2 linked regions of the Homo sapiens genome follow. The protein of the gene in region 1 purifies or fractionates together with the protein of each later gene. This does not show direct contact. Each region holds a gene or a part of one and is shown on either strand. Other genes may lie near its edges.

Region 1 (7,707 bases):
ACAACTTTTCTAGTGCACTGTGGCTTTTGCAGTTCTGACCAAGCAGGCTCCTTGCTATTGATGCGGCTCTGTGGTGCCAGCTCTAGAAACAAACTACCATTTGTTGCTTTCTAAAAAAAAGCCTTTTAAGCTCCAGACGACATTGGGCCTCTCTCTCCTGAGCTGAAAGGTTGGTTTCTTTGAGGTTTCCAAATGGCAGCTTATGTCTTCTCAGAAGGGCTACAGCCCATTTGTTGGAAGCCAAAAACCTTACCTCAATGGCCCAGGTGAGAGGACATGGCTCAGGGTTGCAGTCTGAGTGTGAAGCACATAAACATCTCCCATAATAGGCTTGGTGGCTGGGCCTGGTGGCTCAAGCCTGTAATCACGGCACTATGGGAGGCCGAGGTGGGTGGATCACCTGAGGTCAGGAGTTCAAGACCGGCCCAGCCAACAAGGTGAAACCCTGTCGCTACTAAAAATACAAAAGAAAAAGAAGAAGAAGAAAAAAAATTTGCTGGGTGTGGTGGTGCACACCTGTCATCCCAGCTACTTGGGAGGCTAAGTCAGGAGAATCACTTGAACCCAGGAGGCGGAGATATCAGTGAGCCAAGATCGTGCCACTGCACTCCAGCTTGGGCAACAGAGCAAGACTCCACCTAAAGAAAAAATAAATAGGCTTGGATATGGCAGAGGGTGAGAGACAAGTAGCTAGGATCTCAAGGAAGAAGGAAAATAGAGATGTAACATGGAGCTGAAAAGAAGGTGCAGGAATTGCTTTAAAAGAAAACAAAGAGACAGAAAGTAAGACGTGTAATTTACAATGTCCTGTAAAGGTTGCCTCTTGCACACATGGACTGAATGCTGTGACTACAGAGGCACTTTTCAAACTAGTACAAGAAGGAACAAGATTGCCCAATGGTGCCATCACTTAGAAAAGAACCCTTTATTTTACCTCCACCTAATTGCTGTGCCTTTGCAGTATAAGAGGGCTTCAAGTCTTGGTTCGGACGGTCAGTATGACTCTGTGCCCTCAGTCTCCCCATCTGAGAAATGAAGATTCCTGTTGTACCTGGGCCAGCTTCATATGACCTGAGCAATCACTCAGGGCCCTGTGTTCAAAGCATTAAACTATGCTTGGTTTAATGCTCTGCTATTATCATCCTGGAATTCTTAATAATCCTTGAACGAGGGGCCCCACATTTTCGTTTTGCACTGGGCAAGTAAATGACGTAGTTAGCCTAGTTAGTACCTATCTCAAAGGGTTGTTGTGAGTATTAATATTTTGGAAACACTTTATTATTTGGCACACCAGTCATCATTCACTTTAATTCCAGCTCCCATAACTGTGTTGAAATACCAAGTGGCTATGACTGTTTTTATTATTCAAATTCCATCATAGTAGAAAGCATTTAAGGAAAACTGCCTCGGTGGAAAAGATTATTTCTCTCCAGACCCCAGATTGATTTTACACTGTTCATCCCTCTTTGAAACATATATTCCTTTTCCCACTTTTCCGTCCTATGAGTTGTTATAGTGCCTCAGAGTTAAGGTATTTGACCTACAAAGCTCTTAGAAAAGTGTGGGGTCCAGAGAGAAAGATAACTGAGCAATTCAGTTTTCTCGCAAGATTCCAAAATTCTTAAAGAGATCAGATTAGGACCAAAATCTTCTGATTTAACAGTGAGGGGCTAAGGGACAAAACAGAGGGAAGCCAGGGAGACGTCCTTCAGACCCTCTCATAGCCCACGACTGCCCGGTCGCATTGTGCTGTCCATCTGCCTTCTAAACATCCTTCCATTGTGGCCGCTTCTCCTCTTCTTTCTGGGTGTACAGCGAGCACATCAGCCCAAGCACAGCCATAAACCCCTGACTGCACTCTCTCCCTCACCACGGCCATCTCCCCAGACCCACTTTTCTTTTTTGAGACGGAGTCTCGCTCTGTCTTGCCCAGGCTGGAGTGCAGTGGTGCAACCTTGGCTCACTGCAGCCTCTGCCTCCCGGGTTCAAGCAATACTCCTGCCTCAGCCTCCCGAGTAGGTGGGACTACAAGCGTGTGCCGCCATACCTGGCTAATATTGTATTTTTAGTAGAGATGGGGTTTCACCGTGTGGGTCAGGCTGGTCTTGAACTCCTGACCTCAGGTGATCCACCCACCTCGGCCTCCCAAAGTGCTGGGATTACAGGCACCAGCCACTGCAGCCGGCCACATGCCATATATTGTTTATCCATTCATCCACTGAGGTTCTTCCATCTGTCAGCTCTTCTAAATAATGCTGCAAGGAATATTGGTGCATAAGTATCTGTTTGAGTCTGTCTCTGCTTTTAGTTATTTGGCACACATACTTCCAGGGCCTGCTTTTGACTCCTCCAGTCCATTTGCACTCAGCAGCCGAGAAGGACTTTTTACCAACACACATCCAATCACATCACTTTTGTACTTACAGTTCTTTGCTGGCTTAAGATAAAAGACGGAAATTCTCACCAAAGTCTCCAGGGCCCTGAGCTCTGGCCTGCCTACCTCCAAGTCCCCTGGCTCTTCCCTTTGCTCTGCTCCAGCTGTCTAGACTTTTCCCCATCCTTCAAGACAGCCATGCTCCTTTTGGATTTCAACATGCTGGTCCCTTTTTCTAAAATGTTCATCCTCCCGCAACACCCGGGTTTTGCTAGTTTTTGCTTGGCCAATTCATCCTCTAGCTTTCTCATCCATCTTGCCTTAAAATGCTCCTGAATATCTCCCTTCCTCCCTCGGGCTCAGCTCCTTCATTCCTCGCTTCTGCTCCCATGGTTCCTGTCTTTCGTGACTGTCCGTTCACGGGGCATTATTTTCCAATGTCTGTCTTCCCTGCTGTAATAGTAACTGTATGCATTCATCCACTGGAGTTGCTTCCATCTTTTGGCCATCATAAATAATGCTGCAATGAATATTGGTGTGTAAGTATGTTTGAGTTTCTGCTTTACCAGGTAAGAAAGCCTGGGGATGCTGTCACAGTGAGTAACAGTGCCCACTTAGACATTTGGAAGCCAGTGCAGACCCACAGGGCAGTGCTGCCCACTCCCAGGACTCGGGAGCATGGCTGCCTCCCTGTGCCAACACTGTCAGTCACTAGCGCAGAACCTGGCACACGTTGGTACCAATTCATATCTAAACTGGATGAATGAACAGACAGAATGGAAAGTACAGGAGGGACCCGAGTTTTGGACAAACATTACTTACCCTGTGGCTCCTAAGTGCTGGGCATCCTTACCCACACTCCCAGCTTCAGTTTCCCTAACCTAGAGAGCGCACACTAATATTTATGTTCAAATGTTATTGGGGAGGTTGAGTTTTTATTTAATATTTGAATGTAGATTTTAAAAATCATTATGCCAGACAGGCTGGGCCTCACTCGATAAACACTGATGTTTAGCATTTAACACACTTTTCCCCAGACTGGAAGAAGAGGCCGAGATCCCAATTCGGTGACCCAGCCCTTGCTGGAGTACTAGGTGGTATCTAATGCCATCCACCCTTCCGGGATCTTTACGGCCCACCTCTGAGTGGGTCCCACGGGGACCCTCAGCCGCATTTTCTTTCTGCAGGCCTCCCTGCACACTCTGGGGCGTTCGCAGCTCTGGAGCCCGCGGGGCAGTGCGTCCGGCCCCGCCCTGGGCCTCATTATCTACGTTTCCGCGTCACGCCCGCCGCGAACTTGGCAGGCCCTCCCGCCGGGTTCGGGAACACTGTGTGCCTAGCGCCCGCCCTCCTCCCTTCCGCCGGCCCCGCGCGATCCATAGGGTTTGGGTCGCTGGGCGCCAGGTACCCGCACCCGGCAAGCAGCCACGGAGCCCCTCGCGCACTTGTCCTCGATACCCTTGAGTTGGGGCTACGCAGGCCACTCCTAGGCCACTGGCTGGGCGTCCGAACGTGGGTCACCCCGCGCACAGTCTAGAGGTTCAGAAAGATGCTGTGGCCCACTTTAAAACAAAGCCCAATTATTAGCGCTCGGCGGCTGTTTGCGCCGGTGCAGTGTCAGATCCCCCAGCGCTGCGGACAACCAGCACCCAAAGGAAGCCGAGCTGGAGCTAAAGATCCCGGCTCCGGAGCCATCTGACCGGTTTTGAGACCTCCAGCTCGTCGCCGTCCTGGCTGCGAGAGCTTGGGCACGGCGCCGGGGCTCAGTCTCCTCTTCTGTGGAATGGCGATAACTGTATGTGCCGGGTGACTGCACGTGGCGCGCGGCGGGTGGCGGGGATGGCAGCGGTGCGATCCCACGCCTCCAGGACCCCACCTTCCTGCGGCCCCCGATCGGCCCCGCCCCGGGGGCGCCCCAGCTGCACGCGCGGCGCTGGCTCCAAAGTGCGTCACGGGCACCGGCCGCGCTCCTTCTGCCGCCAGGGCGAGGCTGGCACCCGGCCAGCGCGGGCAGGGCCACGGGTGCCCGGCTGTTTCCCGGGTGTGGAAGGCGCTCAAGGTGCGCGGCCCGGGGCGCGCTACTGGGGGCGCCCTCCGCGGTGGGCAGCGCGCCAGGGATCGGCCTGGGCAGCCGCGGGGCGCGCGAAGGCTGCGCTTTCCCTACGGCCCCCCTCGCTTCCTCCGGCACGGCGGCAACGGAGATTTCCTCTCGGGGAAACTACGCGGATCCTTTTCGGGGATCCTCGCCCCGCCCCAGTTCTCCGCCCCCTCCCCTTTGCTGGGGCGCCTGGGCTGGCCCGCGCAGGGGAGGAGGCTCTGGCAGCCTGGGCAGGGAGGCGGCGGGGGGCCGCGGAGCCGCTGGCCATCGATTCTCCCCGCCATGTGACGCCGTCCTTAGCCCTGCGACCCCCAGCGCGTCCCGGGCCTGCGCCTCCGCCCCGCCGCGCAGCGCACGATGCTTCTGCCGGGACGCGCACGCCAACCGCCGACGCCCCAGCCCGTGCAGCATCCCGGCCTCCGCCGGCAGGTAGAGCCGCCGGGGCAGCTCCTGCGCCTCTTCTACTGCACTGTCCTGGTCTGCTCCAAAGAGATCTCAGCGCTCACCGACTTCTCTGGTAAGAGCGCCCTCCCTGGCTGTGTGCCCCCGGCACCGCGGAGCGCCCAGGTGAACCCTCGACTGGGGGCAGCCGCACCAGTGGACACGGCGGGGTAGGATTAAAGTTGAGGCGTGCTCACAGACACTTGTCTGGTGTGAGCCCTTGGCATATAGATGGCTGCGAGTGAAGTGGCGACGGGGGACTGCCACTCCCAAGAAGGAAGGGTGTGTAATGTATTCAGAGTTTCTCGCCCTGCTGTTGACCTCGTCAATTTCCTAGCATTAGGGACCTGGTCCTGAGCCACGCTCGTTCTATGGAGGCTCCTTAAACTGAGCCCTGTGCCGCGCCCAGCGCTGTAAAATACACGTGTTGTGGTCGGAGGCGTTGCGCCGCGTTTGTCACCCGCGTAGCCCGTTTGCCCATGTAAGGAGACTAGCCCAGGGGACACTTGACCTCGAGTCCACATTGGCAGGTAGAAAGGGAAGCCCGCGGGGACTGGAGGTCTGGTGGAAAGGCAGTGAGGGATGAGGAGATACTTAGATAAGAGAGAGGAGCCTCTCTGCCAAAGTGTACCAGGGTCCTCCCTCTCCAATTCCAGTTTCCTTCACAGAAAATAATGACTTCCTACTCTCGAATAAACTAGGAGGCTTTTCTTTTTGGGAATCGTGATCCAGGCTCTCGCAGCGGATCTCAGATAGTTCTGAGCTTACAGGTGTGACGCCCCAAAGTGAAAGGGATTTCTAGGTTGACGATAGCCATAGGAGCACATGCTTAAGTTAGCGCTGCAGTTGCTTAAGGTAACACATGTCCTTGCCGCTGAAGCACACCTGGATCTCCCTCTGGCAAGGCTGGAGGCCTTCAGCCTTCCCCAGCCCAGCTTAGGGAGCAGCTCTGAGCCCCATACTCCTCCTTCTCCAGGGATCTTCTGCCAAGTTCAGGCTTTGCACAGTCGGTCCCTATCGGGTCCTCAGTGCAGAGTCTTTTGCAACATAATGGTGGTAAAGGGAGTCCTCCTCAGTCCTGTTTGTGCAGTAGGCTAGTACATAGCAAAGAACAAGGGCAAACCAGAAGTTGAGATGGGGTTCTAGTTTACTTACAGAGAATGTCATTGTTAGTGGAGAGCCCTTAGGTCAGAGGTTCTTTGCTTTGAATATGTAATATCAAGGCAGTATTCCTACCTAGCAAAGGAAGCCAAGATAAGGCCTATTTGGCAAGCCACCCACGGCCCTTAAAATCAAGCATCCCAGGATCAGAACTCTGTGGTAAGAGTTGTGGGGAAATGCATCAGACTTTTCAAGGGCTATTAACTTTTTTTTTTGTACTACTAGAACTTTCTTGGCTGCTAGAAAAGCTCTGTATTAGCTGATTTGAGCTATGGAAAGCAGTTCTGAGTTCAGCCACCATCTAGCTCTGAATTCTAAGGAAATAATTGAAAACTGACAAGCCTTTTTGTGTTTGTGACATCATTGCAACTGAACAAATATTGCTTTAGGCAAATTGCAGTGTAACCATTAGATTGTTTTCACAGATTATAGACACTTAGAGTTCTGTTGCTTTAGGGAAGCAGTTGCAATACTTGTAACAGTCTATAGATTACCACCCAAGTTTGGAATTGTCTGTATCTAGCAACTGTTACATACAGTGGAGTTGAGCTATCAACTCCTTAGTAAAATGAATGATTTGATACATGTTATTCTAAATAGTATAAATGATAAAAGGCATTTTCTTCTGCTTTCCATACGAACCTAAATTCCAGGGTTTCAAACTCCCTGAGCCAGCAGTAGGTGGTGATATTGCCACCCACAACGAGCCCCCATTTTTCCTCTCATCAGTGATGCTCTCCAGAGATCTGAAGATTAGGCAGAACATGTCAGAAGCCTTTTGGGGAGAAGAAAGGAAATATAATGTCCTCCCAAACCACTGATGCACTTAAATTTAAACCTTAATTCTATATCATGTGAGGTCAGGGAAATATTAGAAAAATCTCAGGGAGAAAGAAAGATCATCTTCCAAAGTTGGCTCATTTGACTTGGATTTTAGCCGCCCTCCCTCTGCAAATTCCTAAGCTCCAAAGATGACCATCTTATTGTTCGGTTCAGTGTTTCAGCTGACGCGAACCCCATGTGGCCTCAAAGCTTGCCGCCTGTGTTCCTGGGACAGTCGGTCCTGTTCCTTTTTATGAACTTGAAGGAGTGCATAGAAACCAAAACTGAGGCCTGGAAGGAGACAGTGGATCCTCCCCTGCAGAGCCTGATCACAATAACCAGGGCTAGAGAGCAGTGTTTGACAATGCAGATACTTGCCTGTTTTTCTAAATAAAGGGAACATCAAAAACTAGCAGAGGATAGAGGAAACTTGGGATCCCTCTGCCCTGTGAAGGAGGAGGGAGGATGGTGTATCCATGTGAAAGAAAGTGCCAGAATGTCAGGGGTCCCAGCCATTGTCTGTACAATATAGGCCCCTTTCTCCCCCCAGGAGATTAGCAGTGCAGAGTTTTGGAAAGTTCCTTAAGCCTTTCTCTTCTTTGCGGCTCTTCCTTGAGCCTTTTCCTGGGGCTGTCAGCTGGTGTCGTTTTCCTGGGTCATTGATTTTTTTTTGCCCTCAGGGATTCCAGCATCGATCTCACTCTTAATAAGCCAGAGGCAGCATCATGGCCCCCTCCTCCTCCCTGTCCATGCTCGTGACTTGTTCTAATCACCTCCAAGCTTGCTAGTAAACAGGCTCCCCAAACACCGC
Region 2 (7,035 bases), on another chromosome or scaffold:
ATGAACAGGAGAGAAGTCAGAAACGTCTAGGATCACTTTACACTCTCAAGAGTATGTTTCTGTGCTTGAAGAGATGAATGAATGTGTATAGTAAAAGAACAACTCTTGGATTTGGGTTTAGAATTTGATGAGCTAGATGCTGTGTTAAGGAGTTATGAAACAATCACACATTGCTGTTTAGTGATGACAGTAGACACACAGTTTTCACAATAGTAACAGTTGAACAATAGAGCAGTAATTTTTCCTCTCTGCTATTCAGATGAGTGGGAGGAGCACAAACCTTTATTTGAGGTAAGGTGTGGCAATTTGCCCGAGGGAAACTTTTACATTAGCATTGGAAAGAACCTTTGGGAGTTTATTTAATTCAGTCCTTTATCTCTTTGTAGGAGTTTATTAAAATCAGTCTTGATAGAAAATTCTGTACTGTTTTTAAAGATCTCCAGGGGATTTGCAGCAAGTTTTTCTCTATAGCAAATTGGATTATTATTCCATGATCTTAATTACCAAATTTCTTCCTGTGGATTTAACATTTGATGAAATAAATGCCATGTTTTGGTTGCACCTGAAATATAGTAGTTTGTTTGTGTGTTTGTTTTTAAAACTTCACGTTAACAGCTCTTTTTAAAAGAGCTTCCATTTCTTTATAGAAGTTTTGAGATTTAGGTTTTCCTTTTACTTTCCTGAGTTAGTTAATAAGTGTGAAAGAAAAAAAGTTATCTACCTTTGAGACAGTTTTGACCCTAACTTTTTTCCCTTTGGGTGTAGTTTTAATGAGATATTAGAAGGATGAGAGCTCTCTGGCTTACAGAATAAAAAATTCTATCTCAAGGAATTGGGGCAAAAGTTGTGTTCTTATGTTAAATAATAAGCAAAGTAGAAAGAACAAAGTGTTAGTCTTGCTTCTTAGGAGGAGGCAAATAAATAACTAATAAAGCTGGTTTACTAAATAGCTACTAGCTTTTGTTTCCACTGAGGGAGAAACAGTAACTGGGGGTTTATATGTGATAGTTAAGGAAAAGGAGACGATAGTTATGAGGCTAGAACAGTAGAAATAGTTAGAATAGTCATATATCTATTTAGATTTAGCAGATCCTGATAAGATACCTCAGATACCTGAAGGCTTTTCAGAAATAATGTAATTTACAACTTGGAGGACAAGATTTTCATTTCAGTTTTCACTCTAAGGGGAAGCATATCTTGATTCTTACATAGCTGCATCTGAAGAATTCCAGAGTTATTTGAGATACTCAGGAATTTTCTTTAACAGGAATTCTTGGGAAATGTGTAAGCAGCTATGTTCTTAAGATAGTATTTTAGAACTAGGATGTTCAGAAAAGTCAGACTTGCCCACTTTTTAGGGTTTGCCCATGTGCCATAGAAATTTGCACCGCTTTGAGCAAGACAGTTAATTGGTTGATTTAATTAGATTCAGTTTTTGGAAGAAAGAAGCAGTGTTTATTGGTAGAATAGGCAATTCAGAGGGATGGGTAGAGGCACTGTTTGCATTCTGAGTGGGTGTGCCATACTTGATTAAATAAATGGTTTGTGGACTCAAAGTCAGTTCCCTTCTGGGTAGTTTCTGAGAAGCTTCTGTAATATAATTCACAATTTGTGACCGATAAAAAAGTAAGTCCTTTGCTCTTGACCCATTTACTGTTAGAAAATTTATCTTAAGTTTGTCTTTAAGACTACTTTTTATTGCAAAGCTTGAGGCAGCTATTCTTCCTTTTTTAAAAAAATAATTTTTACTTCTCATTATAGAAATAATACATGTTTAATGTGGGATCATAAAACATTGAGATAATCTCTGCGTTAGGTTTTTTTTTTTTTGAGACGGAGTCTCACTCTGTCGCCCAGGCTGGAGTGCAGTGGCGCCATCTCAGTTCACTGCAGCCTCCACCTCCCGGGTTCAAGCGATTCTCCAGCCTCAGCCTCCTGAGTAGCTGGGATTACAGGCATGCGCCACCACGCCTGGCTGATTTTTGCATTTGTAGTAGAGACAAGGTTTCACAGTGTTGGCCAGGCTGGTCTCGAACTCCTGACCTCAGGTGATCCACCTGCCTCCGCCTCCCAAAGTGCTGGGATTACAGGCGTGAGCCACCACGCCTAGCCGGAGGTTTGTTTTTTAATGTGGTCTATTGTAAATCCATCTGCTACTTTCCGTTAATTTCTTTTCTTTCTTTTTTTTTTTTTTTTTGGCGAGATAGGGTCTCGCTCCAGCCTGGCCTGCAGTAGCACAGTCATAGCTTACTGCGGCCTCAACTTCTCGGGCTCAAGCGATCCTCCCATCTCAGCCTCCCAAGTAGCTGGGTCCACAGGTGTGCACCACTACAGTGGGCTAATTTTTTTTTTTGAGACAGAGTCTTGCTCTGTCACCCAGGCTGGAGTGCAGTGGCGCGATCTTGGCTCACTGCAAGCTCTACTTCCCAGGTTCACACCATTCTCCTGCCTCAGCCTCCCGAGTAGCTGGGACTACAGGTGCTCACCAACACACCCGGCTAATTTTTTTTTTTTTTTTGTATTTTTAGTAGAGACAGGGTTTCCCCATGTTAGCCAGGATGGTCTCGCTCTCCTGACCTTGTAATCCGCCTGCCTCAGTCTCCCAAAGTGCTGGAATTACAGGCTTGAGCCACCATGCCTGGCCTTTTTTTTTTTTTTTTTTTGTAGAGATGGGTCTTACTATGTTCCCCAGGCTAGTCTCTTTTTTACTTAAACAAACAAACAAAAATAAATAAAAATATATATATATAAAGAGAGAGGGAGACAGAGAGAGAGGGAGACAGAGTCTCACTATGTTGCCCAGGCTGATCTCAAACTGTTGGGTACAATCGATCCTCCTGCCTTGGCCTCCTGAAGTGCTGAGATTATAGGTGTGAGCCACCGCACCCAGCCACCCAGGCTGGTCTCAGACTCCTGACCACAAGCATCCTCCTGCTTCAGCCTACCAAAGTGCTGGGATTACAGCCACTGTAGCAGACTATTTTGTGATAATTTCTAAGTACAGTGAAATATGCGGTTGTACTGATACTATGGGTGTGATCCAGTCTTACTCCAAAAAATAGGTATTAAGGGCTGGGCACAGTGGCTCATACCTGTAATCCCAGCACTAAGGGAAGCCAAGGTGTAAGGATTGCTTGAGCCCAGGAGTTCAAGATCAGCCTGGGCAACGTGGCGAGACCCCATCTCTATTTAATTAAAAAATAATAAGGTATATGACCAGGTACCGTGGCTCACGCCTGTAATCCCAGCACTTTGGGAAGCCGAGATGGGCGGATCACTTGAGGTCAGGAGTTTGAGACCAGCCTGGCCAACATGGTGAAACCCCGTCTCTACTAAAAATGTAAAAATTAGCCGGGTGTGGTGGTGTGTGCCTATAATCCCAGCTACTCTGGGAGTCTGAGGTAGTAGAATCGCTTGAACCCAGGAGGTGGAAGTTGCAGTGAGCCAAGATGGTGCCACTGCACTTCAGCTTGGGCGACAGTGAGACTCTGTCTCAACAAAACAAAACAAAACAAAACCTCAGTTAGATACCATTTCACACCACTAGGATTGCTAAAATAATAAACCAGGTATTAAGTGTTCATGAGGATATAGAGAAATTAGAATCCTGATACATTGCTGGTGGGATTATAAAATGATGCAGCCACTTTAGGAAACAGTTAAACATAGAGTTAGCATGTGGCCCAGTAATTCTACTCCCAAGAAAAATGAAACATATGTTCCTGCAGAAACTTGTATATTAATTATAATAGCAGCATTGTTGATTGATTGATTGATTGATTCAGGGTGTTACTGTTACCCAGGCTGGCAGGACATGGCTCACCGCAGCCTCCACCTCCTGGGCTCAATCAATCCTCCCACCTCAGCCTCCCAAGTATCTGGGACTGCAGGCATATGCCACCATGAGTGGCAAAATTTTTTTTTTTTTGAGACAGAGTCTCACTCCGTTGCCCAGGCTGGGGTGCAGTGTGGCTCACTGCAACCTCCACCCCACTGGTTCAAGCAGTTCTCCTGCCTCCGCCTTCCGAGTAGCTGGGACTACAGGCACATGCCACCACGCCCAGCTAATTTTTTATATTTTTAGTAGAGATGGGGTTTCACCATGTTGGTCAGGCTGGTCTCAGACTCCTGACCTAAGTGATCCATCCGCTTCGGACTTCCAAAGTGCTGGAATTACAGGCGTGAACCACTGTGTCTAGCCCCACGTTATTTATAATAGCCAAAAAGTAGAAACAATCCAAATGTCTATCAACTGATGAGTAGATAAAATATGGTATATCCATATAAAAGGATATTATTCAGCAATACTACTGAAGGAATGCAGTACTAATACATGCAGGAGAATACTACATTGTTTATGGCCATGTGTTTATATAGTGAAAGTATTTAAAAATACAGGGGAATGATAAACACCAAATTCCCAATTCTTCTGAGGAGGAAAGGAAATATAGCATTTCCCCAGGACAGACTTCTTAAAAGGATTGGAGAACTACTTAAACATGTCAGATCTTGACACTGTCCTGATGGCCTCCTGTCACTAATAACAGAATACAAAATGGGGTTTACAAGGCCCACCATGAACTTTCCCATCCCTCTCTGACTTCATATCCTGCCAGGTCACTGCTTTCTAGCCAATCCGGGCTTTCTGATGTTCCCCAAACACATTGCCATCAAGCACCCCTCCCTGGGGCCTTATTATTATTATTATTATTATTATTATTATTATTATTATTATTTTGAGATGGAGCCTCAATCTGTCACCCAGGCTGGAGTGCAGTGATGTGATCTCGGCTCACTGCAACCTCCGCCTCCAAGTTCAAATGATTCTCCTGTCTCAGCCTCCCAAAGTGCTGGAATTACAGGCGTGACCTACCACGCCTGGGGTCCCTGGGGCTTTAGCCTTTACAGTTACCTCAGCCTGGAAAGCTTTTTCACAGAGTTCTCTTCCCTACTCCAAGTCCATCTGCTTACACCTTACCTCCACCCTGTTTAAAATGCTCTTTTTCCACGATTTTATTCTGATTGTAGCAGTGTGATCTGATACAGTATATCTATTTGCTTATCTGTTGTCTGCCTCTCTCACAGGAGTGTATTTCTAGTGCTCAGATCATGCCTAGCTCATAGCAGGGACTCAATAAGTATTGAATGAATAACTTTAATGTTTTATTTAATGGAAAAAAGATCTAAAGCATATAAGCTAAATCTTAAGTTTTGATAAAGCTAGATGTTGAATACAGTTTTATTTCTATTTTTTTGATGATAATTACTGTGTCATATTTCATACATACTCTGCTGGTTGACAAAAACTAGCTCCCTAAAATAATGTTACAGACATAAGTAAGAAATGGATTGTGGTGACACATAAGCTGTTAAAGAAACCCGTAGCCTAATTTATAGTGTATCAGGTTTGCAAGTGGTTTAAAACAATAGCGGTTTACTGAATGTTCTTACTAGCGTGAGGGGAGAGCTTGTGAGAAGTAGGAAGAGGCCAGAGAAGGTCCTGGGGTCTGGCACACTCTGATATGCTTCATCACCTCTCCCTAAGCTCTCCCTACAGGGCAGTGGGGCCAGTGGTGACTTTTGCGGCACCCTCTCCATTGTCTTACCAAGGGCTTCAGCTGTGAGACGCCGGTTGGTGCTACAAGGAAGGGGAAACGTGTCAGCTCTTTCCTCTGCTCTTTTCTCACATTGATTTCAAATGCCAAGAAGCTGGGCTGAGAAACCGGGCTTGTGATCCTGGTTGTACTGCAGTCCACCATGTGCTGGAGAGCTCTGCAGGTTGTGCTAAAGGGTAGTGTCTTTATTGCCTCCTGTATAAGCTTGACTTTTACATAGGCAAGCAGGTTATTTCCAGGACAACTAAATTAGTTGGTGCGAAACCTCATTTCCTAGAAACCCATTTTCTTAGTAGAGGAAACCCATATAACCATTTGTCTCCATGTAAGTGTAGCTAATAACATGAATAACAAAAATAGCTAATTATTTAAATAGCAAAAATAAGTATGGAAGATGAATTTGCAGTAAAATTCTAATATTAAGCCACTGATTATTTTAAAACAATCAGATTAAGTTGTAGTACCTCTGAAATAATTAAAGGAAAATTTGATTCTTAGAAAATCTCAATTCATTGGAAAGCCATGGAATTAATAAAATAAAAAAAGAAAATCTCAGGCAATATAAACTAAGGAATGGCAAATGGAAAATGTATTGATTGGTGGAAAAGTAATTGCGGTTTTTGACATTGAAAGTAATTACTTTTGCCATTACTTTTAATGGCGGAAACCATTTAATGGCAATTACTTTTGCACCAACCTATAAATAATTGGACTCTAGTTCCAACTTTGATATTTAGCTTTCCCATGACTGTTGACAAATTGCTTAATCTACTTTCCTTGATTTTGTCAGTCAAATGAGGAGGAAGAGACAGCTTGAGAAACATTTGTAAGAGAAATGCTTATTACTTTGTATGTGTTTTTCGTCTTACATATTAAATATAAATTCCTTTAGGTGATATTCTTTAAAATGATTTCCTTACTTCCTTTTATATTTACATCCATTTTCTCTTAAAAAAACAAACAAACAAAATACTGCACAATTCTTGAAGACAAGGATTACCTCTTACCTCTTATTTGTTTCATGAAATATAGAGTACAATTTTTTTTTTTTTTGAGATGGGTCTTGTTCTATCACCCAGGCTGGAGTGCAGTGGCGCCATCATGGCTCACTGCAGCTTCAACCTTCTGGGCTCAGGAGATCCTCCTATCTCAGCCTCCCCAGTAGCTGGGACTACATTCATGCACCACCACATCCGGCTAACTTTTGAAAATGTTGTGTAGAGATAGGGTTTCACTATGTTGTCCAGGCTGGTTTTAAACTCCTGGGTCCAAGCAATCCTCCCGCCTTGGCCTCCCAAAGTGTTGGGATTACAGGCGTGAGCTCCTGTGCCCAGCCTAGAGTACAGTTCTTGACATATAGATAGAAATTAAGTATTTGTAGAATGAGTGGAAAAAAAAATGAAATGATTATGTTGATTTT

Evidence for each region. The genes of interacting proteins can lie anywhere in the genome.
Region 2: the proteins of EVA1C (region 1) and SPTLC2 purify together in Homo sapiens (affinity purification with mass spectrometry; 4 studies listed by BioGRID and IntAct, with this or other methods). This does not show direct contact.

Annotation. Positions count from the first base shown.
Region 1 is NC_000021.9:32,408,025-32,415,731, forward strand, and holds the start of EVA1C (protein eva-1 homolog C isoform 1 precursor), read left to right. Parts: upstream 1-4,681; 5' UTR 4,682-4,829; coding exon 4,830-4,989; intron 4,990-7,707. UniProt on the Homo sapiens protein: Binds heparin.
Region 2 is NC_000014.9:77,606,621-77,613,655, reverse strand, and holds part of SPTLC2 (serine palmitoyltransferase 2), read left to right. Parts: intron 1-7,035. UniProt on the Homo sapiens protein: Component of the serine palmitoyltransferase multisubunit enzyme (SPT) that catalyzes the initial and rate-limiting step in sphingolipid biosynthesis by condensing L-serine and activated acyl-CoA (most commonly palmitoyl-CoA) to form long-chain bases.